Homo sapiens: one gene and its partners. The protein of the gene in region 7 purifies or fractionates together with the protein of the main gene of each other region. This does not show direct contact. Each region holds a gene or a part of one and is shown on either strand. Other genes may lie near its edges. The genes, in order: PRICKLE2, SYNM, CDC42BPA, TMF1, FBXW8, ZNF143 and SLC9A2.

Region 1 (3,955 bases), on a different chromosome or scaffold from region 7:
GGTGGCAAAAATTCAGCCTTGGAACTTCTGAGGAGCCAACCAGCAGGTTAAGCACATATTCAATGGCCTCCCTGGATAGAGAAGAAAATGCTCAATATCTGCACTGAAAAGAATTAAGAAAGAAAAGGACTGTCTCTCACATGCATAGGTGAAGCAGAAGAGAAATCTAGAAATGCATTGATTCCAACTGGGACCCCGCAGCTTTCTACATGTGACTTGTCAGCTGCCAAAACAGGATGCCTTCTTTAAGGCTGCCTAAGCCCCAGTTAGTTCTAAATGATTTTCATTATACCAGCTGGTCACTTTCAGTTCTGTGAAATACAGTAGTTCTGGATAATATACTTTATTCTGTCAACTCAATCAATAGGGTGGAAAGTTTCTTTGAGTGGGAATCATTTGGATATAACAGTACCAGAGATGGCATCTTTTCTGCTAGCAAAACCTTTCTGCAGGCAAATGGATGTGAACATGTTGCCTTTTCAATACTGTTTTTTAGCAACAACACTTATAATGATAATGACAAAATGGTAACAATGACAACAACAACAACAACAATAGCAGCTAATATTTACTGAATATTTACTATGTGGCTGCCACTGTGCTCTGCATAGGTCATCTCATTAAATCCTTACACCTATCACCCTAACTATAGATTCCATTGCTCTCTCCACTTTACTGGCAGGAATGGGTAGCTTTAAGTATCTTCAGCTCTTTCCAGCTCCAGAGTCTGAGCCCTGGATAAATATCATCTCATACTATCTAACCTCTAAGTTCCCTTCTCATTCTTTAAGCTTCCATAAATGCATCTTTCTTCCTCTATTTCTATTTTATTCCCTCACATTTCATGGGTAAATCTTTATAAACACACCATTTCAAACAATGCTATTTTACTCTTTCTGGCTGCCCCGTGAATCTTTATAGACTGAGATGCCCGATGGAGCCAGTATGTTTTAATTTTCACATGAAAAACAGAATTCCCAAGGGGAAGGAGCATTTGATGGAAAGGCAAAACCTTTATAAGCACTCAAGGCATTAAAATCCAAATTTCCAAAATATGGTAATTATGTCAAAGTTGTGACTTACTCTGGAGCCCTTGGGGACCCTCATCCTGACCCATCTGTGAAAGCCATCAGCAGGCAGTAAGCCTTCTGAGGAGCAGGATTACAGCAGCCAATTTGGCCTCTAGCAAAGAGGCAAGGCTGCTTCATTTAGTTTAAGTCTCACTGAGATGGTTTAAAACACTCTTTGGGAAGAGATGTGCAGGCAAAGCAAATCACAGCCTTACCAGCTGCAGATTCAGTACACGGCAGTCTATGTCTACATATTCATGGCACACTGGAGCCCTCCCCTGACTGTGCTCATACATGCATTGATATGGGAAGCAGAACTCTCTCACTGGGGAAATAATCTATGTGCCTAAGTTAGACAAGAGCCACATTTGGACCAGCGGATGGCATCACATCTGGTATGGATCGCTAACCTCAGTGTGATTTGGCCCAGCCTGGATTATTTATGATTCATAAAAGTCCCACTGGACCCCAGCATAGTCCAAGACCACATAACAAAAAACCATGGGATTAAAAATCTGTATTTCATTGCAAGACCCCCATGGCAAATTAGTAATGCTATGATTGGTTTTCGAGAAGCCAAGAGTGAGGAGAACTAACTATGATCACTCCCTCAAGAAACCCAGCATAGAGGGCAAACCGAATCATGTGTTCAGCCAGGCTATGCAGTCATATTCTGAAGCTCTGTCACCATTTCTAATCTGAAAGCAGTGTCTAAAATTAAACCTAAATAATTTGAAAGCCATTTCTTTACCTGGAAGTCTCAGCTGAGTCCTTGTTCCTCAGATCCCCTAATGGTTTCTGACATCATGTGTTGAAATGACTACTGTACATGAACGCTATCAGGTATTTGGTCTGTTAGCCCCTTTCCCCATATTATTATGGTTTTTTAAAGAAAGCTACACTTTTAGAGAAACGCTGCTTCTTCTTAAGCATCAAGATTTAAGCGTTTCTTCAGGACTCCCTAGAGCTGTGACATAACACTTTGTAATCGAGCTTTCTAATCAGCATAGAAAAGGCAAAAGGGGTCGCAGGGCCACCAAAAATGCTACCTGGCCAAGAAAACGAAGACCCAATATCCTCCCCCAGTGCAAAGGCCCTAGATCTGGCTTTCTCATCCTCCTTAGAAAATATACTGCTGTTTAATTTGTGAATTAGAGCAAATTTCTTACCCACCTCCAGGGAGGATGAAATGCCCAGTCTCGGAGGAAGCTTCTGCCAGACCCTTGGAGCTTGTCAATTGTCCCAGTTCACTTTCTCCCTGGATCTGACTTCTAAGAACGCAAGCAGGACCTCAGGCAGCCAAAGCATCTTCTCCTCAAACCCCCTTTTCAGTCTGAACCCTTCCTGAAGCTGGCAACAGACTCAAGCCGAGCTGCTCCACATTCCCTCAGGGAAAACAGCACTGCTGGATCCAGACTCTGCTGGGGAATTCACCAAGCAAGAGAAAAAAAGTATGACTTCTACTCTTCCTCTAGATCAGCCTGAGTGCTCAGATCGCCTTCCGGAGGACCCCCAGTTTCCTCTTAACTCCCCTTCTTCATGACAATCTGAAGGAAGAAGTCATAGACTCCAGCCCAGCGTCACCAGCTGATCCTGAGCCAGACCCGGGGTGACTAGTCAGCTGCTCACAGAGCTCAAGCCACTGAACCAGGAAATGTGCTGCTTGGTCAAAAAATAATAATAACTCTCGGTGGCGCTGCTGGTGGTGCCTGAGAAGTCGCTGTTGCAGTGCTTGCATCCTCCGCATGCTAATGAAGCTGTGATGTCAGCAAGTCAGTCACGGCATCTGGACGTCCCATCCTGCTGCCCAGTGCTGAGATTTATTTACATGTAAATTAGCCTTGCCTTCCAAATCAATAATCCCCAAGCCAGGGAGAGGGGAAGGAAGCCTTTGCTGGATGCAAAGGCCCAGCTACGTAACCTCCAAATGAGCATGAAAAAAATCACATATAAGAAGAGAGGCTTTAAAGACACATGCCTATTTTTTTTCTTCTTAAAAGCTGTGCTCTTAGGTGCCAAGGTTCAGATCTGGGCACAATTATCAACCTGAGCGCCTGTTTCAGATTATATGCTGCACCAACCTAGGAGTGGAATCAGAGCACTCTTTTTTTAATTAAATGCTGTGTCAAGCCTTCAAAAATGCCTCTCCTTTTTTTTTTTCTTTCTCTTCTCTCTTCAACTTTCATTTTCGGGTGTTGCTTGTTTTTTGGCCTGAGACTATGTCACCTTTGAGTTTTTGTGCACCTCGAAATAAAGCACAAGTGACTCCTTTCCTCACGTGCTTGGGTGGTGAGTCAGTCAGCTGCCCTTTAACCCCTTACCCCAATTCCAACTGCATGCAGAAGAAGACAAAGCATAAACCTTCCCAGGGCATCTGAAGACCCTGAGACCCTCAGAGAGCATTGCTTCCATCTCCTCATTTTACAGATTAGAAAATGGAGACAACTGGAGAAAGGACTTTTCTAAAGTCACACCAGGATTTCAGCAAGGATGGGTCAGAATCCACATTTCCTAGACCTCAGATAGAGCTTTTGTTGAATACCTTTGGGGTCTCCGAGCTCCATTTTTATACACCACTAGGCGGCCTAACCAAGCAATCTGGAAGAAAGGAATCTATACATTTGGAGAGCCCTGTGTTCAAATCCTGCCTTTCCTTCCTGCTAGCAGTGTGATCTTAGGCAAGTAACTTAACTTGTGGGATCTTCAATAACCTCATCTGTACCATTCACTCATTCAATAAATATTTACTAAGCACGTACTCTATGCCATGCACAGCTCTAAAGGCTAGGTATAAACACAGTCTCTGCTTTCAAGGGCCTTATGGGCTACTGCAATTAAAGAAAGTAAAATATTGAATAGAACTATGGTGAAGATTAACACAATAT
Region 2 (3,500 bases), on a different chromosome or scaffold from region 7:
TGCATATCCCAGAGAGGTCAGAGGTGCTCGTTTTTGTGGCTGAAATTTCACAATCTTATATTTTGAAATCATTAATTTCTGCTTTTTGAGGTAAGTTTAATTTACTGTAGCAGAGAAGAGCTCTGTAATTACAAAGTGTGTCATTATTAAACACCAAATAGCATTATCCTCCACTATTTAATATACTCTTCTGTTTCACTGATTTCCATATTGGGCCAACAAGTATTAAAGAATTTAACTTCTTTAAGCTTTCTGATCTTTTATTTTACATTTAACACTTATCTGAAAAGGAGCCAGTGCAGAAACACCCCGGTCTGTCTTAGTGTCATGATCCTGAAGTTGGGAGGCAGTCCTCAGGGCTTCCAGCTTTGCTCCAGGCTGTTTGCAGACAGTGCTACCCTTTGGGGTGTCCACACCCCAGCAGGGGAAACCGCTCTTTAGGAATGGCAGCTGGTGGTTAGAACGCAGCCAGGAGCACCGTCCACCCCGAGAGTGCCCCTGGTGTCTACCCACACCCCAGCTGGCTCAGCGGGGACAGGGCTTTCTCTCTCCCTTATGGAGCCAAGGCCAGAGGCCTCCTTTGCACAGATCCCAAGATACAGGAAAGAGACCAGGCCAGGACATTTTCTACAAGACTCCTCTTTTCAGGTCAACTGATCCTACTGATCCAACTGAGAAGTCCCAGAAGATGAACCCCCAGGCAATAGTGCAGGGACCATCTCATTTACAGTTAAGATTCAACAAGAAACATGGAAGATTACAGACTGGGTTTAGGTCCACCGGCTAGCGGGCAAGCGGCCAACATTATTTTATGCAATATTATAAAAGAAACACAAGCACACTAACAAGTATTGATAAGTTCACTACTTAGGAACTTATCTGTATATTTACTCAACAGAACAGAACTATCTAGAAGCTCAACGTCTAATAAAAATTCCCAACTAGTAATTTTTATTCTAAAGCTTTTGGCATAATATGTAATTGCCAGAATAAATTTAGTTTACAAATATTAAGTCTCTATTTCCTTCAAGAAGCTTGAAAAATAATGAATGAATGAATGAATGAATGAATGAATGAAGCAAGTTAACAGCAACAGCTGTTAGCCCCTCTGTGTGCTCTCCCTCGGCCCCAAAATCACAACTGGGAAAATTTGAGCAAGGCCCTGGCTTAGACTGTTGGTCTTCCTCGGAGCTCCTGGGCCCTTTTCTTCCTTCTCCCCTCTCTCTAGGTTACATGATGGATGTCCAAACTTAGGTATCCACAGGTTAAAAATGTAGGTAACTAAGTAAACCTTGAAATCTGGGGAGTTAATTCTTGTTTTATAGATGTCACACGTTAACTGATGCCAGGCAGGTTGACCAATGCCTACCCTTCCATGAACACCTTTGCTTTTTTCAAACTTACTCTCAAAATTAGAAAGAAAATTTGCTGCATGTTGTCTAAGACCAGATCCCTTCCAGTTATAGATGACTAGAACCCAAATATTCTTCTCAACCCAGTGACATGTCAAATCCATGAGTTGCCTAAAAGAAACAATGAAGACTAAAACCATGCTGCTGCCTAAGGTGTGAACTCAACATTCTATACGTAATTTAATCGACACTTGCTTAGCCAGAGCTCTTCAAGATTCTATAGGGCTTTAAAAGGTTAAAAAACAAGTTATCCCTCAGTTTCTTAGGATCTTTCTAATGAACATTAATGATCTTATGTCAGTTCTGCAGCCATAGGAAGGATGGGCCCTGTCCTGAGGCTCTTGGCCTCAATAAGGTAGTCTTCAAGGCACCAGGACACATTTTCCTGAGCTGCTCACAACAACCTAGGGTGGTGTAAACAATGTAACTATTCCCATCTCTCTTCCTGTTAGGGTAGCAGGTTCCAGAGTGCTGCCTGCCTGCCATCCAAGGCCATACCTCCCTCTACAGGTGTAACAACCATAACCCCTTGGTCTGGAAATGGAAGGAGTGTCCCTTCCAGGGGTGTGAAACACAAGTTCAGGTGCACTCCTGCTCGCCCTCACACTGCCCAGTGCCATTAGCCCCTTCCGCTCCTGCATCCTGTCGAGAGAGGGACCAAGTTTATCAAGCACCTTCCCAAACATTCTCATTCACATAATTGAAATTATGTCACACTAAACTAAAATCTATTTGGTACTTAAATGAGAGATGAACTCCTGTTATCTAAACACCATATCTAACCCGTTCTTCCCGATGATGGTGCTTTACTATCTAGCCACAGAATAAACAGTTCAGATGCCTAAAGCTAAGTCAAGTCATTAGCTTTTACTTACCTGACGGCATGTTTTCAACGTGCTCAGCCCAGATCACTATCTCTGGATTACTTTCTCCTTCCAATAAGGCCCTGTAAAAATAATTTACAAACATAATTCATTAGGAAACGAAAGAGTAAGAAGTGCCTCTAATAAAACGTATCGTGGTATGCGGCCAATGACCATAGTGTCACCTGTTTTAGGACTTCTACCTGAAGAGGAGACTTGGGCAGGGCTGCACCATAGGGCTGGCAAGCCCACCCACCAGCCTCAGCAGACCTGGGCCAGGCCACCTGCTCTGCTCACCGCCACATCCCTGGCAGCCAGCATGGCGCTCAACCCCTACTAGCCCAGTGAACAAAATGACCAGGCCAGGGCTTCGGCAGTACTGGCGAGCCAAGCCCTTCTAGAAAGCTTTCTCAGTCCAGGGTGAAGAGGAGCAGGAGCAAGGGGGCACTGGAGAGATGTGGGCCCCAGGCTAGAGGGCCCCAGAGCAGCTACACCCCCCACTGGGTTCTTCCTGGAGTCACAGCTGGTGGGGGCAGCTTGCAGAGGGCTGACCAGGAGACGGCAGGGACTGACACTTATAAGGCAGCCAGACTGCATCTGTGGTTTCAAACTGCATTCCAGGGGGTCACCTTGGAGACGACAAAAAGAAGTAGAAGGCAGGCAGACGGAAAAGGTAGTGCTAAAGCGCCCCCCGTCAGTAGCCCCTCCCCATGCCACCCCCAGGGGCCTCACTTCATCCAAATTGGCATCCTGTTATCTCCTTTAATAAAATGGTGAGAAGTACCCAACAAGGTGATTTCTTTGACTATGTCTGCGCCAAAGTTCTAAAATTATAGAAGTTTCATTAGGTTGTTCACGTCTACTGCTTCAGATCCCAGAGCTGAGGAGAGTGGTCCCAGCAGACCCAGCCTGCTGGCGAGGGGCTTAGCACCGGGATGCCTGTCAGCCAGTCACTCGCGAAGACCCCTTGGGCTGCTGGCAGCTCTGGGTGCAACAGTTTCTCAGTTGCTAGAGCAACATGTGAAGTCACTAACTCCGGTTCCAAGAAATACACTGCACACGGCAAAAGGCATCCAGAACAAGAGCCCACTGAGAAATGCCAATCTTATGGCTGAGAGCTGGGCACAAAAACGGAGCAGGGTGCCCACACCCGAGCAGGGACTTGGCAGCTTGGACAAACTGCACTGAGTTGTATTTCCATCTGTTGAAACATGGTGAGCCCCAT
Region 3 (3,500 bases), on a different chromosome or scaffold from region 7:
CATATGGTTTTTACATCAACAACATAATCAATACTGAGGAAAAGCATTAAGAATGACTTTTTTAAAAAACTGTTATCAACAATGACAACATTTGGGAGACGAAGTAGAAGGGAAAAGGAAGAAGAGATATAAAGATAAGACAGCCGTAAGAAAGAGAATCTTACAACAAGAGGAAGGATTTGCTGGCCACATCAATTCCTGTTGTCTAGATCTTCGGCCCTGGCAGTCAGTGTATATCCCAATGCTGTTAAAACACAGCAGATATTCTTTACTGGAGATCTCAACTGCGCAGATAGCATCCATTGGTTGATGTGCAATAAATGATAGTGTATGGTCATTTGAATGGAGCATACTGTATGGATTTCCTTCTCCATTCAAGGGGTATCTTAGAAATCCTGACTGGAATCCCACACAGAGTTGTTCACTGAAGATTGCCATCCACTGGACATTATATGGGACTTGAATTTCTTTAAATTTTCTGTGACGGGTCTTGCTCTGAAATAGTTCATAACAGAGGACCTGCCTTTTCATAGCCACACACAGGCATGTGAGAGCTCCATGGCGCACCTTTCCAGAAGTTACGGTTTGACACCCTTTAGTTTCTGACAGCTTGTAAAAATCGGTCTCTCGCCCATCCAATGCTGACATAGGAAAAAGTCGTACATGACGATTTCGTCCTGAGATCACAGCAACAAGCTGATCATTTGGAATGAGTTCAATCTGATGAATCTTCTTATTGTCACCAACTCTAATAATTTCTAAACACAGAAAGAATAATAAATCAAAATATAGTTTTATTGATTAATCATATCCCAATTATACTCAAAAGGATGTAAGTCAACTTACAGATGCACATACGGAAGAATAAGACATCAGAAGTCACAGGAAAAAAAGATTATCCAACCCATCATAAGATAATTTAACTCACCTATAGTACGTATTAAATTTGAGTCCTGAGATTTCTGGCAGCCAAGGCAAACCCCAAAGGATTCTTGTGTAAAAGTATGCCAAATCTTCAAGGAAACTTTTCTACTGGCACTAAATTCTAGGGAACGTCACCATAGGATTCCCATTTTTAAAAACAGAGAACTTATTTTTCAGAAGTTTTTATATGGCTAACAATGCATTGTTTTCCCATGATCTAAGTTGACATAAAGATAAAACTTAGAATACTGTATTTATGAATACCAAGTTATATTGGTTTCTCTTTATTTCACCCAGCATTTAGTTTTTCCCTAGAAGAAAAACCTCCAAACAAACACATTTTAATAGCTGTTGCCTCTTCTGGTACTAATAGAACAATGTGAAAATCAAGTTGTATATATTTTTTTTCATGTTCCATCTTTAGAAATGCAATCTGGGCTGGGCGCAGTGGCTCATGCTTATAATCTCAGCACTTTGGGAGGCCAAGGCGGGTGGATCACCTGAGGTTGGGAGTTCGAGACCAACCTGGCCAACATGGAGAAACCTCATCTCTACTAAAAATACAAAATTAGCCGGGCGTGGTGGTGCATGCCTGTAATCCCAGCTACTGGGAGGCTGAGGCAGGAGAATCTCTTGAACCCAGGAGGCGGAGGCTGCAATGAGCCGAGTTCGTGCCACTGCACTCCAGCCTGGGCAGCAAGAGTGAAACTCTGTCTCCAAAAAAAAAAAAAGAAATGCAATCTGAGTTCGTACAGAACTGTTAAATAAAATGATACAAGAAAGACAATACATATTTGAAGTTTTAAACCTCAGGGGGATTATAGAAATTTAAAAATAATCTTTTAATTTATAAACGTCAAATTAGGTCTGGAAAATTTTAGTCGCAGGATAAATAAGAGCAAATCCTGCTCTTTGTAGAATTTAGAATCTACAGTTTAAATTTTTTTAACACGATTTAAAATTACTCCAAAAAAAAAAAGTTTTCTCTTACCATCTTTGGTGACATGTACAACAAATAACCCTTCTTCGTTTCCCAAAGCAATTCTTTCATGATCTATGTAAGACATGAATGTGAAAGATTTTTATTAGGAAAAAAACCATGTAATGCTAATAAACCAGATGATAAGAACATTTGGTGCAAAAAATGGAAATAAAATGAATTACAATAACAGTTTACACTATTTCCTTTCAGATTATACTGGTAAATCTCTCATGTCTTCTAAAATAGAACAATTATTAAAGAATAATCCATATCAATACTTACAAAAAGAAGTAAATGTTTAATAAATGATGAAACAAAATGAAAAACCTAAGTTGTTCTACACTTATTGTTTTGGGAGGTAAAAATTGTGAATGGCATTTGAACCATACTCATTGAACTTTTCAGTATTTATGGAAAGTAACAAAAGAGTTAGATGCATACACAGGAATACAGCAAAAATTTAAACCTCCAGACACAGAAACTGCCATTTGTTAAGGGGATTTCTTTCTTATGCAGGGCACTCTGTGTTATGTATTCCATCTTATTTAAACTTCCCAATAACCTCAGCAAGGTAATTACCATCTGTATTTTATATATTAAACTCTAAGAAACTAACTTGTTCTAAATCACACAAGCAGAAAATAGATTAGTAGGCTAATGCTTAGCACTGTTGTTTTTTCAGGAAAAAAAAGGCACTTTGAAAGTGTATTTATACTCCTGTTTACTGAAAAACAAAGATCTGATATAGGTCTCATTCATTCAGTAAACATGTACTGAGCATTTATGATATGATGCACAGTATGTTGGACACTGGGGATTCCTAGATGAAAGCCAATCCCTGTTCTCAAGGTAGATTAGTAAACAATGATAATAATATGATAAATGTTATAAATTCATACCTATGATTGCGGCTGCCTGGGTTGTTTTAATGAGGGGTAGAGTGCTGTCATAAGCCTCTTTGGGAACATAGACTGAGCGGTCTCTGAATTTGTTTTTCTTCAAAATCTTGTGCAATTCACTCAGCACTCCCACCCACTTATTCTTCTCATTCTCAGTGTCTGCTAGCATCAGGATTGAACATTTGTTATTAGATGCTGAGAGCTGGGAAGCTGTGACCTAGAACAATTTAATCAATATTCATGATATTAGAAAACAGACACCCTTTATGCTAGTTTCATGATTATGTTAGTTTGCTTAGCACTCACCAATAAAATAAGCATTCATTAAATGATACCATTACTGGAGTTCAGCTATTCCTAATCAGAATAACTACCTTTAGCACTAGAATACATGACAAAGCAAAGGTGGCAGACACCATTTGAAATGTTAGTATCATTTTCATTTTCCTTCTGTAAAAGTGCCAGAACACTATCACTAAAGAGGCATTAAATATATAACAACAACAACAACAACTGACATTTATTGAGTAAATACTGAGCACCAGGTAGATCTAAGCACTTTACAAGTATTAACTCATTTAACTCTGTTAACATCGTCATGATTTAGGATGTACTGTCATTATATCCTTATTTTATATATGAAAAAAATGGTGATGCAAAGAAATTAAATCATTTCTCCAAGGACATACAACTAC
Region 4 (3,500 bases), on a different chromosome or scaffold from region 7:
TTTTCTTACTTGTATGCACTATCCAGGGCAGCCTGAATACTTCGGTTCTTTTCTTCAAGTTCATCCATGTCTACCTGAAGACGGCCAAGATCTTTCTCTTGGCGTTCTACCATGGAATTTAGTTTTTTAATATTTTCTCTATGTTGTTTCTCAACCTCTTCTTTGCCATCAAGGACCTATATGTTATAAAAACAGACAAAAGTATTTTTCAAGAAATAATACCATGGTAAATAACTGTATTCCAGGAATCTATAATAATGGAGAAAAATATATATTTTTTTGAGACAAAGTCTCGCTCTATTGCCCAGGGTGGAATGTTCTGGCTCACTGCAACCTCTGCCTCCCAGCTTCAGGCAATTTTCGTGCCTTAGCCTCCCAAGTAGCTGGGACTACAGATGTGCACCACCACGCCCGGCTAATTTTTGTATTAGGTTGGTGCAGTATTTTTAGCAGAGACAGGGTTTCGCCTTGTTGACCGGGCTGATCTCAAACTCCTGGCCTCAAGTGATCTGCCTGTCGCAGCCTCCGAAAGTGTTGGGATTACAGGCGTGAGCCACCCCACTCGGCTAAAAAATCTTATCATTTATCTATTGTTTGAAAAATCCTTCTTACATGATATACCCCATTAAATCTTTTCAAATGCTCCATAACCATGGCCAACTGTTCATACAGGAAGTAATAACAATATATATGTAGAGAATTATGATTGCTATTCACCTGTTTCAAATGCTGCAACTCCTCTTCTAGCTCTTTAACTTTTTTGTTCAGCTTTGCAACCATATTTTCATTCTCCTTGTCTTTAGCTCTTAATTTCTTGATGATGTTAGAATTGTGCAGCTGCTGTTTTGAAAGTTTTTCTCCTGGTGATGGTAAAGAAGTATAAACTCAAATGATAACTATTCCCTAAAAATCTCAATAGAATGTTTTATCTAATAGTAACATAAAAGAACAGAATTTTTTTAAATTACAATTTTGTAACCCACAATGTTACAACTAATTTGGACAGCAATCATCAATGAATGTTAAAATTATTGGGTAAAAGGTTGTTGGGAACTGGATATTGACACGGTCTTAAAGAATCACTCTCATATATCACCTACTAATTTTAAAGAGAAAAATCTGGCAGTCAACTCCTTAACTAAGCATTCAGTTTTGGCATCACCAATTGTAGTACAGCCTGACAATATGTGTCTGCTGATGTGATATAGTTGTTCAATATCACCCAGATATTTCCTACTAGAAATATGAACTAAATCTAATTTAAATCTCATCATGAAGAAAGTAACAAATTCCCGAACATGGGTGGGACATCCTGTGGGACAACTGCCCTAGACTCTACAGAGTCCTCAAAGACATAAAGAAGAGAGAACTGTCCTAGACTGATGGAAGACTAAAAGGACATAACAATCAAATGCAATGGGCAAACTTTGGATCCTGGGGCAGAACAAATGATCAATTATAACAGACACTTTTAGAGACAACTAGGATTAATATTAAAATATATGCTGGATTACACTTCTGAATTAATGCTGATTTCTTAGGTTTGACTATGATGTACCTGTCAAGGAAAACGTACTTGCCCTTGGGAGATGTAGACTGAAGAATTTAGGAGCAGAATGTTACGGTATTTGTAACCTCCTTTCAAATGAGTTGACAAAAGGGTAGTGTATGTATGTGCAGAAAGATATGGAAGAGTTGTGGCAAGATGTTAACACCTGATGAATCTAGGTGATGAAGTAATCAGGTATTCATTGTAGTGTGCTTTCAGCTTTGAGTTTTACAGCTCTTTAGCTTTAAGTTTTAAAAATACTGGCCGGGTGCAGTGGCTCACGCCTGTAATCCCAGCACTTTTGGGAAGCAGGCGGATCACCAGAGGTCAGGAGTTCAAGACCAGCCTGGCCAACATGGTGAAACCCCATCTCTACTAAAAATACAAAAACTAGCTAGGCGTGGTGGCAGGTAGCTATAGTCTCAGCTATTCGGGAGGCTGAGGCAGGAGAATTGCTTGAACCTGGGAGGCGGAGGTTGCAGTGAGCCGGGATCATGCCACTGTACTCCAGCCTGGACAACACAGTGAGACTCTGTTTCAAAAAAAAAAAAAAAATTTTTCTGGGGCACGCGGAAACAATATATAATACCCTTTTGTGAAATGTAAATACTCTGTGAATATAAAATACTCCCATGTGAAATTGCTCTATTTTCTCTGTAAAAAGGTTCATTAAGCAAAAGAAGACATCAGTTCATTCTCTGACAAAATTATTAAATTACAAAATAATAACATTCGATATTAATATTTCAAATAACTCTTTTAAAATAAGAAAACCATGCAGTTAGCCTTCCCCTCAGTCTCTGATATTGTAAGGCAAGGCAGTTAATGACTTCAAGACATCTTGAGAAAATAATTATAACAACAGTTCCTTCATTTTTCTATTTTAGTGCTTAGAATTGTGTTTTATCATTATCTGTGTTCCTATATTTCCCTCTCACTGAACTAAGCCCCTAAAGGACAGAGTGTCATACTTATTATTGTATCAAACATAGTATCTGACATACTAACCGTTCAATAAATATTAGTTGAATAAATGAAAAAGTTGGATAAAGCTAACTTTCAAATGAAATGACTGCTTCCAACTGTTCTCAAACGCTACCCTTTCTCTGGAAATTTACTTAAGTTCAGTGATTTAAGCACAAAAACATTCATCCTACCACTAACTATATTATTAACATTATAAAAATAAATGTACAACACTAGAAATAGTAAAACATATTATGGTATACCCATATAATGGACTTTAATACAGCCACTAATAATGATAAAAAGCATTTAATGGCATAGAGAGATGTAAGAGAAGGAAGATTGGAAATTAAATATATGATCTTAAATATGTTTAAAAATGCATTAAAAAATACATTAAAACTAGAAAAAATTAATAGTTCCTTATAATATTGGATTATAATCTACTTTTCCTCTTTATTCATATACTTTCCTATAACTTCAAAACTTTCTACAAGTAGCAAGTATTACTCTTATAACTACAAAAACTTTAATTAACAAGAGAAATAAAAAGAGAGATTCACTTGACCACGTTTTCCAAAGGCTCCTCTCTCCCAGGATATTACATGAAGAAATTAATTCAGTATCCATTTGTAATGATTTATTTCATGAATAGATCTTTAATTTCTGTAATGCTATTAATTTTATTTTATTTATTTATTTTTTTGAGACAAAGTCTCACTCTGTCGCCCAGGCTGCAGTACAGTGGCGTGATCTTGGCTCACTGCAACCTCCACCTCCCAGGCTCAAGCAATCCTCCTGCCTCAGCCTCCTGAGTAGCTGGGATTAGAGGCACGCACCACCACCACCCGGCTAATTTTTGTATTTTTAGTAGAGACGGGGTTTCACCATGTTGGCCAGGCTTGTCTCGAACTCCTGACCTTAAATGATCCACCCACCTCTGCCTCCCCAAGTGCTGAGATTACAGTCATAAGCCACCACACTC
Region 5 (2,849 bases), on a different chromosome or scaffold from region 7:
TATCATAGACACAATAGTAAGCAAAATAGTCATTGATGACTAAACTGTATAAGTATATAATTATAAACCATGGTAAAAGCTGTGAAGAAAAAGTACAGCTCTACCAGCTTGCTACTGGAAGGTGGTGGTGGCAAGTGTCACAGAAGAGCACCCCAAGTAAATACAGGGAAAAGGACATGGAGGTTATTGCCTTGGAGGCCAGGAACAAGCACATCCAAAGGCCCTCGGAGGAAAAGAGGTAAGGGGCTGGAGACGGAAAAGACGGCCTGCAGGGCTGGAGCTGGGAGGGCGGACACACAGAAGCTGGCTAAGCAGGGACCGTATAGGACCGCGCAGCGAGATCCCTGAGGCGTCCTGAGGGAGCTGAGGCCAGGGTGGCCAGCTGGGTGGGGAAGGAGGCTATGTTTGAGTTGGCAGCACGTGGGACTCGAGCCCTGGCACACGCCAGCTTGCCCCAGGCGCTGGGGGAAGTGCAGGGGTCAGGGAGATGCGTGCTGTCAGGCATGGCACCCTGGGCTGCTTTCTTCCCCTAAATGTTTACCACCTGTGAAGAGGTGCCTGGCGTTTTAAGATGGATAAAACTGGTTCTTCCCATTTTTCTCCTTGCTCCCAACTGAGGCACATCCCTAAACATGGTTATAGGGAAAGGCCAGTGCGAGGTCGTAGTAGTGAGTGGCCATGGCGTCACAGGATGAACGGCAGACAGGGAGAGGGCTCTGGAAGGCCAGCTGGTCCACCGCAAACTCATAGGCGCGGATCAGCCCCCGGTGTCTAGAAAGAGCACAAAGATGGTGACAGGTCAGGGCTGCCTCGCTGGCCCTCACCCCAGCCGCTTCTGTCTGTGCAGGAGGCGTTCGCCTGAGACCAGATAGAGGTTCAGCTTCACAAACGCGTTCTCTGGGCACACAGCGTCAGATACTCACAGTCCCCGGCTTAGCGGTCAACGTGGGGGTGCACAAGTCCGATGGGCGCAGTGAGTGTCACAGGGCAAGGACTCAAGAGGGCGGGCCTTGCCCCTGACAGGATTCTAACCACAGCAGGCCCCTCAGCATACGGCTTGCCCTCCCTCTCTGTACAGCCGACAGCGTGGACTCGCCCCACGGGGCTGTCCTGCATCAGATGCTGGGTGCTCAGTACAGGTCAGCATCCACGTTTATGTTTCCAATTCGCAGAAAGGCAGGGCCCTGCCTGAGGGTATAGCCCATAGGGTGCAATGTGTCACGGCGGGGGGGGTGGGGTTCTATACATCAGTCAAACTAAGATGGTCTCTTACTCGCCCGGCCCCACCACTAACCTCCTGTGAGTAGTGAAGCTGTCCAGGTCGGCGTTTCGCATTACCGTCTGGTAAGGCACGTTGGCCGTGATGAGGCTGTGGCTGCTGAATGAGATGTGCTGCACCGGGTGCCTGGAAGGCAGTGGGAGAGAGCTCGTAAGGGGGCGTCCACTGGGCCTGCACTTGCTGCCGCAGGCCTGGGAGTTCAGAGCTGCAGGGGATTCTAGAACCCATAAAGCTAAGCTTCTCTTTCACAGAGGGAACAGGGCCCCCATGGAAGCAGTGTCTCACCTCAGTTCCCGAAGCTCAGGTGAGCAGGCCACGCTTTGGGCATGACTTTGTAAACAGGTCTGCATGCCCCGTACGCATGCTGGCATCTGCCCCCACAACCTGGTACATTCCAGACATAAAGGGCACACCCTACTGCAGACGAATCAGCCACATGCAACAGAGACTGGCCCATCGCTGCCTCCCTGGGCAAGTCCCTTGAGCTTTCCCAGCCAGGCTCTCCATCATCTATGGAGCACTGGGGGCACGTTCACTGTTGATCCATGAAGGTGCCCCCCACATCCTGCTCATAGGGCTGCAATGACACACGTACCCTGGGTGGTGAAAGCACGTTCGGAAAATCTTGGAACAAAATGGTTCCAAGTCTCTTGAACAGAGGTTTGCGTTCATTCTGAAACTTTCATGCAGTACCGGCTGTGGTCACGGCACTGAGCTAGGAGACACTGGATTAAAAAGATGTCTCATCCAGGTGGATGCCTGGCCCAGGGAGAGCCCTAGCTAGTGAAGAAGGTAAGATGCAGTCCCAGAAAACATGACCATTGTTTCTGTAGCACGAGCGATGTTACAAGCTACAAAGAATGTGTGACCCAGAGTTAAGTGCTGGGAGGAGCAGGAGGTGCTGTGGGCTGGGAGGGGTGCACAGGAGGGGACGAGGCCTGTGTGGGCTGGGCCAGGGCTGCTCTCCTTGACTAAAGCAAAGGATTCTTGGAAGTGAGGGAAGCTGGGAAGCAGTCCCTGCCTCCCTGGGGTTGGGACACCCACAGAAGGAAAGTGTTGGTGGACCTGGCATGGGACCTGGAGGATGAGAAAGACCCGGGAAGGGAGGGCAGGCTTGGTGGAGGCCTGCAGCCTGGAGGACTGAAGGAAAGTGTTGGTGGACCTGGCATGGGACCTGGAGGATGAGAAAGACCCGGGGAGGGAGGGCAGGCTTGGTGGAGGCCTGCAGCCTGGAGGACTGAAGGAAAGTGTTGGTGGACCTGGCATGGGACCTGGAGGATGAGAAAGACCCGGGGAGGGAGGGCAGGCTTGGTGGAGGCCTGCAGCCTGGAGGACTGACGGCACCCTGTCAGGCAGGCGAGGACCTGGGCTGAAGAGACTGAAGCGGACAGCGGGAGGTACATGACAGTGACCAAACAACAGCCAGACTGGGGCCTGGCAGCAGGCACTGCAGGTGAGGCCTTGAGCAAGTCAGTGAGTTCTGGGCAGGAGACCATGTGTCTGTCAGCCTTGTGCTGGTGAAAACAGTGACCACGTGGGGGACAAGCCTGGACCGCACAGGGACAGAGGC
Region 6 (3,500 bases), on a different chromosome or scaffold from region 7:
CTAAAAAATACAAAAAAAAAATTGCTGGGCGTGGTGATGGGTGCCTGTAGTCCCAGCTACTGGGGAGGCTGAGGGAGGAGAATGGCATGAACCCAGGAGGCGGAGCTTGCAGTGAGCCAAGATGGTGCCACTGCACTCCAGCCTGGGTGACAGAGCGAGACTCCGTCTCAAAAAACAAAAATTAGCTGCGCATGGCAGCGTGCACCTGTACTCCCAGCCTGCCGTGCCTGGCCTGCAATTTACTTGGGATTTTGATAAAATCTTCATACAGTCTGGCCATGGTGGCTCATGACTATAATCGTAGCACTTTGGGAGGCTGAGGCAGGAGGATCACTTGAGCCCAGGAGTTCAAGACCAGCCTGAGCAACATAGTGAGACCCCATCTCTATTTATTTTTACATAAATAAAAACTAAAAAAAAAAAAAATTCATACATGCAAGAGACAAAAGATGCTTACCTCAGCCAACAAAAGAGAGCTTCTTGAGCCTTTAGCTTCTATACCCATAAACTACATAAAGCCAACAGCTGACATTTCCTGGAGTGTGTTCTAACTCTTTATCAAGTAAACACGTGGGCGGAAAAAAAATCTCCCTAAGGACAGGTAATCTGCACCTAGCCCCTAGGATTCTATTTTACTTTACATTCTAATTTTTTTTTTGAGACAGGGTCTCGCTCTGTTGCCCAGGCTGGAGTACAGTGGTGCGATCTTGGCTCACTGCAGCCTCAACCTCCCTTGCTCAAGTGATCCTTCCACCTCAGCCACCTGAGTAGCTGGGACTACAGGTGCACACCACCACACCTGGCTAATTTTTGTATTTTTGTAGAGATGGGGTTTCGTCATGTTGCCTGGGCTGGTCTCTTATTTTTTGAGATGGGGTCTCATTTGTTACCCAGGCGGGAGTGCAGTGGCACAATCTTGGCTCACTGCAGCCTCAAATCTCCTGGGTACAAGTAATCCTCCTGCCTCAGCACCCCCCAAGTAGCTGGGCACTACAGGCAGCCGTCACCACACCCAGCTAATTTTTGTGTTTTTTGTAGTGATGGTTTTCACCATGTTGCCCAGGCTGGTCTCTAATTCCTAAGCTCAAGCTACCTACCTGTCTCAGCCTCCCAAAGTGCTAGGATTATAGGGATGAGCCACCATGCCCGGCTGCACCTAAGATTCTAAATTCTCTGCTTCCCAGAGAATGATTCCTTCTAAGTCTTCTGACATTCCCCACTTTAAAATGGGGGCTGTGCAAGGATTCTCAGAGGACTTATTTAGGATTTGTGTTTCCACTAGGTTTTTCTCTAAGGAGTAGCTCTTAAGTGCTTTACAGACCCCTGCCTAATTAGACTTTTATTTTGAGAGTAAAGATGCCTGGGTGGGTGCACACAGGGATATATACCTGAAGGTTTTTTTTCTTGCTATAAATTCCCCTAGAATATGCAAAGATGGGTAGAGAACAAAGTGCTGGTCTTTTTGAGTCCACCTCAAATACACCGATTTCCTTAAAGTAGGCTAGGTGATAGAGATTATTCTACACCTTGCCTCCTGTAAAGGTTATACACGAAGCACAGTGTACAAAGTTGAAAGCTATGAGCAGCACTGCTGTCGACTGAGGACAGTATGCCTTGGTACTCACCTGAACTGCAATCTGGGTGCCATTGGATGTTGCTACTAAGGTCAGAGGTCTGGTTTCTGTGGTTACTAAGTGATGGCTATGCTGCTGGTGCCCCATTTCTGATGAGGCAGTATGGAATGCTGCCAAGTCTTGAGCTACAATTGCAACCTTAAGCAAAACAAAACAAACCATACACATAAAGAATTAAACCTGCGATTTAAATAGGTTAAAGTCCACTTAATACAATGGATTTCTTCAAATTGAAAAGGAAAAACTCCTCTGACCATAGACTTGTCAAAGCCTATATTGAAAGGAGGTTTATTTGAGGAAGTTGAGGCTCATTATCTAAGGTTATGAAGTGAGCCAACGGCAAAATAGGGTAGAGAACACTGGAGAAATGGATCTGCTATGCCAGGCCCCATTAGCCAGGGAGATGTGGCTGTACCTAGATTCTATTACCCCTAAGTGACTGCTTGGGAAGTTATGTATGTGGACTAATTTGCACCTCAAATGTCCATTTTTTTTTCCTGAGATTGGCTCATAGGAGAAAATAAATGATTTTTTTCCTCTTTACTTGTCGTATTTAAAATTAGATTTCCATTTAACTAGGAAAACTGAAAGGACCAGTGGTACTACTGACAAACAGCATCTCATCTCATACTCATTTCCCATTTTAGACTCCATGGAATCTTCCCATACTCCTCTTGCAGCATCTAGCCAGGAGGATTAAAAGGGCTTTTGTGGCTCTTATACCACAAGTACAACTTTTTAAAAAAATGCAGATAACATGGAAAATGGCAATTAACTATTTCTGTTAGATGATATTCTAAAATTTTACTCAGCCAAATTCAGAGAAAGAATAGATTAAAAATGAAAACTGCTGTTTTACTTGGCTATTCATCCACTAAAAATGCTACATTTTAAGCTAATAGATATTTAGCTTGGATCAATCCCAATAATGTTCCCTAATTCTATAAGAAAAACAGATTTCATTCCAGCAATGTCTAAGTAGCTTATATTGGGCTAACCTTCCTGCAGATAACAATTATAAACCCTTGACAAAAATATGAAAAAGCAACTATATGAAGGCTTTGAGGAGCAATGACAAGCAGGAAGAAACTAGAGGGGATTCTCAAAAGAAGGGAGTCACACTGTGTTATATCTGTGTTTAAATAGATTTCACACTGAGGGCACTACCCAGTTTGAGCAGCCTGGGGCAACTTAAGGTTAAAGATAATGGAGTCCAGGGCTGCCAGAATAGCAGTACAGAGAAGAATAGCCCAGAAAGCAAAGAATTTGAGTGGGAAGCCCCCAAATCTTTGTATAAACTGTCCTCAAATCCTTTTTTTTTTTTTTTTTTTTGAGGTAGTCTCGCTCTGTCGCCCAAGCTGGAATGCAATGGCTTGATCTCAGCTCACTGCAAACTCTGCCTCCCAGGTTCAAGCGATTCTTCTGCCTCAGCCTCCCGAGTAGCTGGGATTACAGGCATGCGGCACCTCACTCGGCTAATTTTTGTATTTTTAGTAGAAACAGGGTTTCTCCAAGTTGGTCAGGCTGGTCTCGAACTCCTGACCTCAGGCGATCCACCCGCCTCGGCCTCCCAAAGCGCTGGGATTACAGACGTGAGCCCCCGCGCCCAGCCAGAATAATAATTATTATTATTATATATTTTTTGAGACGGAGTCTCACTTTGTCGCCCAGGCTGGAGTGCAGTGGCGCCGTCTTGGCTCACTGCAAGCTCCGCCTCCCGGGTTCACGCCATTCTCCTGCCTCAGCCTCCCGAGTAGCTGGGACTACAGGCGCCCGCCATCACGCCCAGCTAATTTTTTGTATTTTTTAGTAGACACGGGGTTTCACCGTGTTAGCCAGGATGGTCTCGATCTCCTGACCTCGTGA
Region 7 (3,500 bases):
TACATTTCTCTTTTTAAGCTACGGTGTTTTAAAATGTGAAATTAAAGATGCAAAATCCAGATCTATGTGGTTTAATGAGGCCTAGCCAAATGAAAATAACATAACTCATTTGATAGTATAGGTATAAAAATATACATCTGGAAAATGTAGATATAGAAAACAGATATGGAAAAAAAGTACATGCGCAAAATCAAGTTTTCTTTTAAATGGTAATAGTTTTATATGAAAAAATACACTTTGAGCCACAAGTACTGGAAATAAGGAAGTTAAAAACTTAATAATTAAAGGAAGAACTCACTCTGGAGATGTAACAATATTGAATGAGTATGTAATAACATAGCATCAAAACAAAGCAAAAATTGAAACAATTACAAATGGTAATTGACATCACAATTTTAGAAGTGATTTTAATGTACCCCAGGAACTGATAAAGTAACCAAAAAACTGGTAATGCTATTGAAGATTTTAACACCGTAATTAGAAATTTGACCTAGTCTCTATGTGTCTGCATATGTATACATCTAAGTATATAAAATCCTGTACACAATAAATAGAGAATACACATTGTTTTTTCAAGTATAAATGGAAAATATAGTTTTAAAATGTCCATAAAATAAGCCATAAAGGATATCACAATCAACACTAAAAATCAGCATTATACCTATCTAGCCAAAATGCATTAAAATGTCAATAAAATAAAAAACAACTGGGCATGGTGGTGCATGCCTATAGTTACAGCTACTTGGGAGGCTTAGGCGGGAGAATCATTTGAGCTAAGGAGTTTGAGAGCGGCCAAGGCAACATAGTGAGAACCTATCTCTAAAACTGACAATGACAACAAAAACCCCAAATCTCCATAAGTTTATTAACTGAGAAGTAAAATTCTAACTAATTATTGAGTCAGAATAAAATATCACAAGGGGGTTTAAAAATACCGAGAGCTGAGTGACAGTGGAAACCCCGCATATCAAACCTATGCAATACAATTAAAGTAGGAAAAAAGGGGTATATTTCTAGCCTTAAATACATATATTGCCGTTCTTCCAAAATTTACCCATTTGGATCATGAGAATTCATCTTTGAGAAGAGTTTCATTGAATAATCCTATTTTAGTTCATGAAGCATTCCTTTGGCTCCATGAAGATCAAACTGATTTTGTGGACTCTGAGCATCCTGAGATGAGATCCATCAAAAGCAGTCATCATTCCAGTTTTATCATTGGTATGTTGTGTTAAGAAATCCTTTCAGAACACCCATGGTTTCCTACTTAACAGCAGTAAAGACATCATGCAATTTATTCAGAAACTGATATGTCATTTGCATAATTTTCCTTATATCTTTTGTCTTTACCATTCTCTTTATTGTTATTATTATTTGTATTAAAGATGAATTTACATAAACTTTGAGTATTATGAATACGTTTAGTTTGTGACAGAGTCTTAAGTGTACAGTATATCATAGATTTGAATTTAATGAAAACAAGCAAATACCCATATTTGGGATAAATTGATAAGGGGAATTGTCTTATTAGGAGTTTCAATAAGTAAGTAAGCTACTGAAGTAATTTTGTTCATTTTAATAAGACTGATGTCACTTTAGCATAAGTGCATGTCAATTTTGGAGCTCAGGGATTCATAAAAATACCAGCAGAGAAACTATTGAAAATAATATTAATTATGTTTTTAAATATTGGTGTTTCTTACTCTTGTAAGGCGGGAATTAACAATATTAACAGAACATAAGTAAACCAAACAATTAATGGGTTAAGTTTTTAATTCAAGGATTAATTAAATAAATAAACCCAAAGAAAGCTGAAGTAAGTAAATCATAAATGTAAGAGCAGAAGCAGATAACTTAGAAGCTAACCAAAAGCTAATTCTTTGATAAAGTATCAAATAGACAAACTCCTGCATACCTGATCAAGGTGAAAAAAAGAAAAACATAACAATATTAGAAACAGAAAGGAGAACATAAATGCATATAAAGTGGAGATCTTTTAAATCATAAAATAACTTCCAATAAATTTTTAAAAACTCAAAATAATAATTTTATAAAAAATACAAATTACCAAAATTGACCCCAGAAGACACAGATAAACCAAATAAAACTATAAACATTAAAGCCACGGACTCACTGGTTAAAATCTATCCATATACCAAAACCATCAATTCACTTGCTTTTACAGGTGAGTTTTTATATCACCCAAGGAACAGTTTGTTTTTTTTGTTTCTAAGAGAGCAGGTCTCCATCTGTCTTTGCCCACTCCCACTGGAGTGCAGTGGCATCATCGCAGATCACTGTAACTTTGAACTCCTGAGCTCAAGTGATCCTCCTGACTAGCTCCTGAGTCACTGGGACTAAAGGCACAGGCCACCAAACCTGGCTTTTTGTTGTTGTTATTGTTGTTGTTGTTGTTGTTGTTAACATTTTGAAGAGATTGGGCCTCACTATGTTGCCCAGGCTGGTCTCAAACTTCTGGCCTCAAGTGATCCTCTCACCTCAGCCCCACAAAGTGCTGACATCACAGTTGTGAGCTACAATACCCAGCCAGAACAAATGGTTTTATGCAAACAGTTCATTGTATACTTCTTAGGGATTCAATCTAGGTGAAATAATTCTGTAAGAAATAAAGCTGAGTATTGTTATCATTGTTAAAGTGGATATAATGTAACATTTTCATTTGGTGATAAAAATATCTATTATTTCTCTGATGGCCAGTGATGATGAGCATTTTTTCATGTGTCTGTTGTCTGCATAAATGTCTTCTTTTGAGAAGTGTCTGTTCATATCCTTCGCCCACTTGTTGATGGGGTTGTATGTTTTTTTCTTGTAAATTTGTTTGAGTTCTTTGTAGATTCTGGATATTAGCCCTTTTTCAGATGAGCAGATTGCAAAAATTTTCTCCCACTCTGTAGGTTGCCTGTTCACTCTGATGGTAGTTCATTTTGCTGTGCAGAAGCTCTTTAGTTTAATTAGATCCCATTTGTCAATTTTGGCTTTTGTTGCCATTGCTTTCGGTGTTTTAGACATGAAGTCCTTGCCCATGCCTATGTCCTGAATGGTATTGCCTAGGTTTTCTTCTAGGGTTTTTATGGTTTTAGGTCTAACATTTAAGTCTTTAATCCATCTTGAATTAATTTTTGTATAAGGTGTAAGGAAGGGATCCAGCTTTGGCTTTCTAAATATGGCTAGCCAGTTTTCCCAGCACCATTTGTTAAATAGGGAATCCTTTCCCCATTTCTTGTTTTTGTCAGGTTTGTCAAAGATCAGATAGTTGTAGATATGTGGTATTATTTCTGAGGGCTGTGTTCTGCTCCATTGGTCTATATGTCTGTTTTGGTACCAGTACCATGCTGTTTTGGTTACTGTAGCCTTGCAGTATAGTTTGAAGTCAGGTAGCGTGATGCCTCCAGCTTTGTTCCTTTGGTTTAGGATTGACTTGGCAATGTGGGTTCTTTTTTGGTTCCATATGAACTTTAAAGTAGCCATCAGAGAAATGC

Evidence for each region.
Region 1: the proteins of SLC9A2 (region 7) and PRICKLE2 purify together in Homo sapiens (affinity purification with mass spectrometry; one large-scale study listed by BioGRID and IntAct). This does not show direct contact.
Region 2: the proteins of SLC9A2 (region 7) and SYNM purify together in Homo sapiens (affinity purification with mass spectrometry; one large-scale study listed by BioGRID and IntAct). This does not show direct contact.
Region 3: the proteins of SLC9A2 (region 7) and CDC42BPA purify together in Homo sapiens (affinity purification with mass spectrometry; one large-scale study listed by BioGRID and IntAct). This does not show direct contact.
Region 4: the proteins of SLC9A2 (region 7) and TMF1 purify together in Homo sapiens (affinity purification with mass spectrometry; one large-scale study listed by BioGRID and IntAct). This does not show direct contact.
Region 5: the proteins of SLC9A2 (region 7) and FBXW8 purify together in Homo sapiens (affinity purification with mass spectrometry; one large-scale study listed by BioGRID and IntAct). This does not show direct contact.
Region 6: the proteins of SLC9A2 (region 7) and ZNF143 purify together in Homo sapiens (affinity purification with mass spectrometry; one large-scale study listed by BioGRID and IntAct). This does not show direct contact.

What each region holds. Positions count from the first base shown.
Region 1 is NC_000003.12:64,222,667-64,226,621, forward strand, and holds the start of PRICKLE2 (prickle-like protein 2), read right to left. Parts: upstream 2,801-3,955; 5' UTR 2,244-2,800; intron 1-2,243.
Region 2 is NC_000015.10:99,125,580-99,129,079, reverse strand, and holds part of SYNM (synemin), read right to left. Parts: intron 2,359-3,500; coding exon 2,288-2,358; intron 1-2,287. UniProt on the Homo sapiens protein: Type-VI intermediate filament (IF) which plays an important cytoskeletal role within the muscle cell cytoskeleton.
Region 3 is NC_000001.11:227,028,493-227,031,992, forward strand, and holds part of CDC42BPA (serine/threonine-protein kinase MRCK alpha), read right to left. Parts: intron 3,023-3,500; coding exon 2,806-3,022; intron 1,979-2,805; coding exon 1,916-1,978; intron 759-1,915; coding exon 165-758; intron 1-164. UniProt on the Homo sapiens protein: Serine/threonine-protein kinase which is an important downstream effector of CDC42 and plays a role in the regulation of cytoskeleton reorganization and cell migration. Regulates actin cytoskeletal reorganization via phosphorylation of PPP1R12C and MYL9/MLC2.
Region 4 is NC_000003.12:69,038,834-69,042,333, forward strand, and holds part of TMF1 (TATA element modulatory factor), read right to left. Parts: intron 861-3,500; coding exon 718-860; intron 177-717; coding exon 10-176; intron 1-9. UniProt on the Homo sapiens protein: Potential coactivator of the androgen receptor. Mediates STAT3 degradation. May play critical roles in two RAB6-dependent retrograde transport processes: one from endosomes to the Golgi and the other from the Golgi to the ER.
Region 5 is NC_000012.12:117,025,950-117,028,798, reverse strand, and holds part of FBXW8 (F-box/WD repeat-containing protein 8), read right to left. Parts: intron 1,406-2,849; coding exon 1,295-1,405; intron 772-1,294; coding exon 627-771; 3' UTR 1-626. UniProt on the Homo sapiens protein: Substrate-recognition component of the Cul7-RING(FBXW8) ubiquitin ligase complex, which mediates the ubiquitination and subsequent proteasomal degradation of target proteins.
Region 6 is NC_000011.10:9,523,512-9,527,011, reverse strand, and holds part of ZNF143 (zinc finger protein 143), read right to left. Parts: intron 1,773-3,500; coding exon 1,626-1,772; intron 1-1,625. UniProt on the Homo sapiens protein: Transcriptional activator. Activates the gene for selenocysteine tRNA (tRNAsec). Binds to the SPH motif of small nuclear RNA (snRNA) gene promoters. Participates in efficient U6 RNA polymerase III transcription via its interaction with CHD8.
Region 7 is NC_000002.12:102,626,053-102,629,552, reverse strand, and holds part of SLC9A2 (sodium/hydrogen exchanger 2 precursor), read right to left. Parts: intron 1-3,500.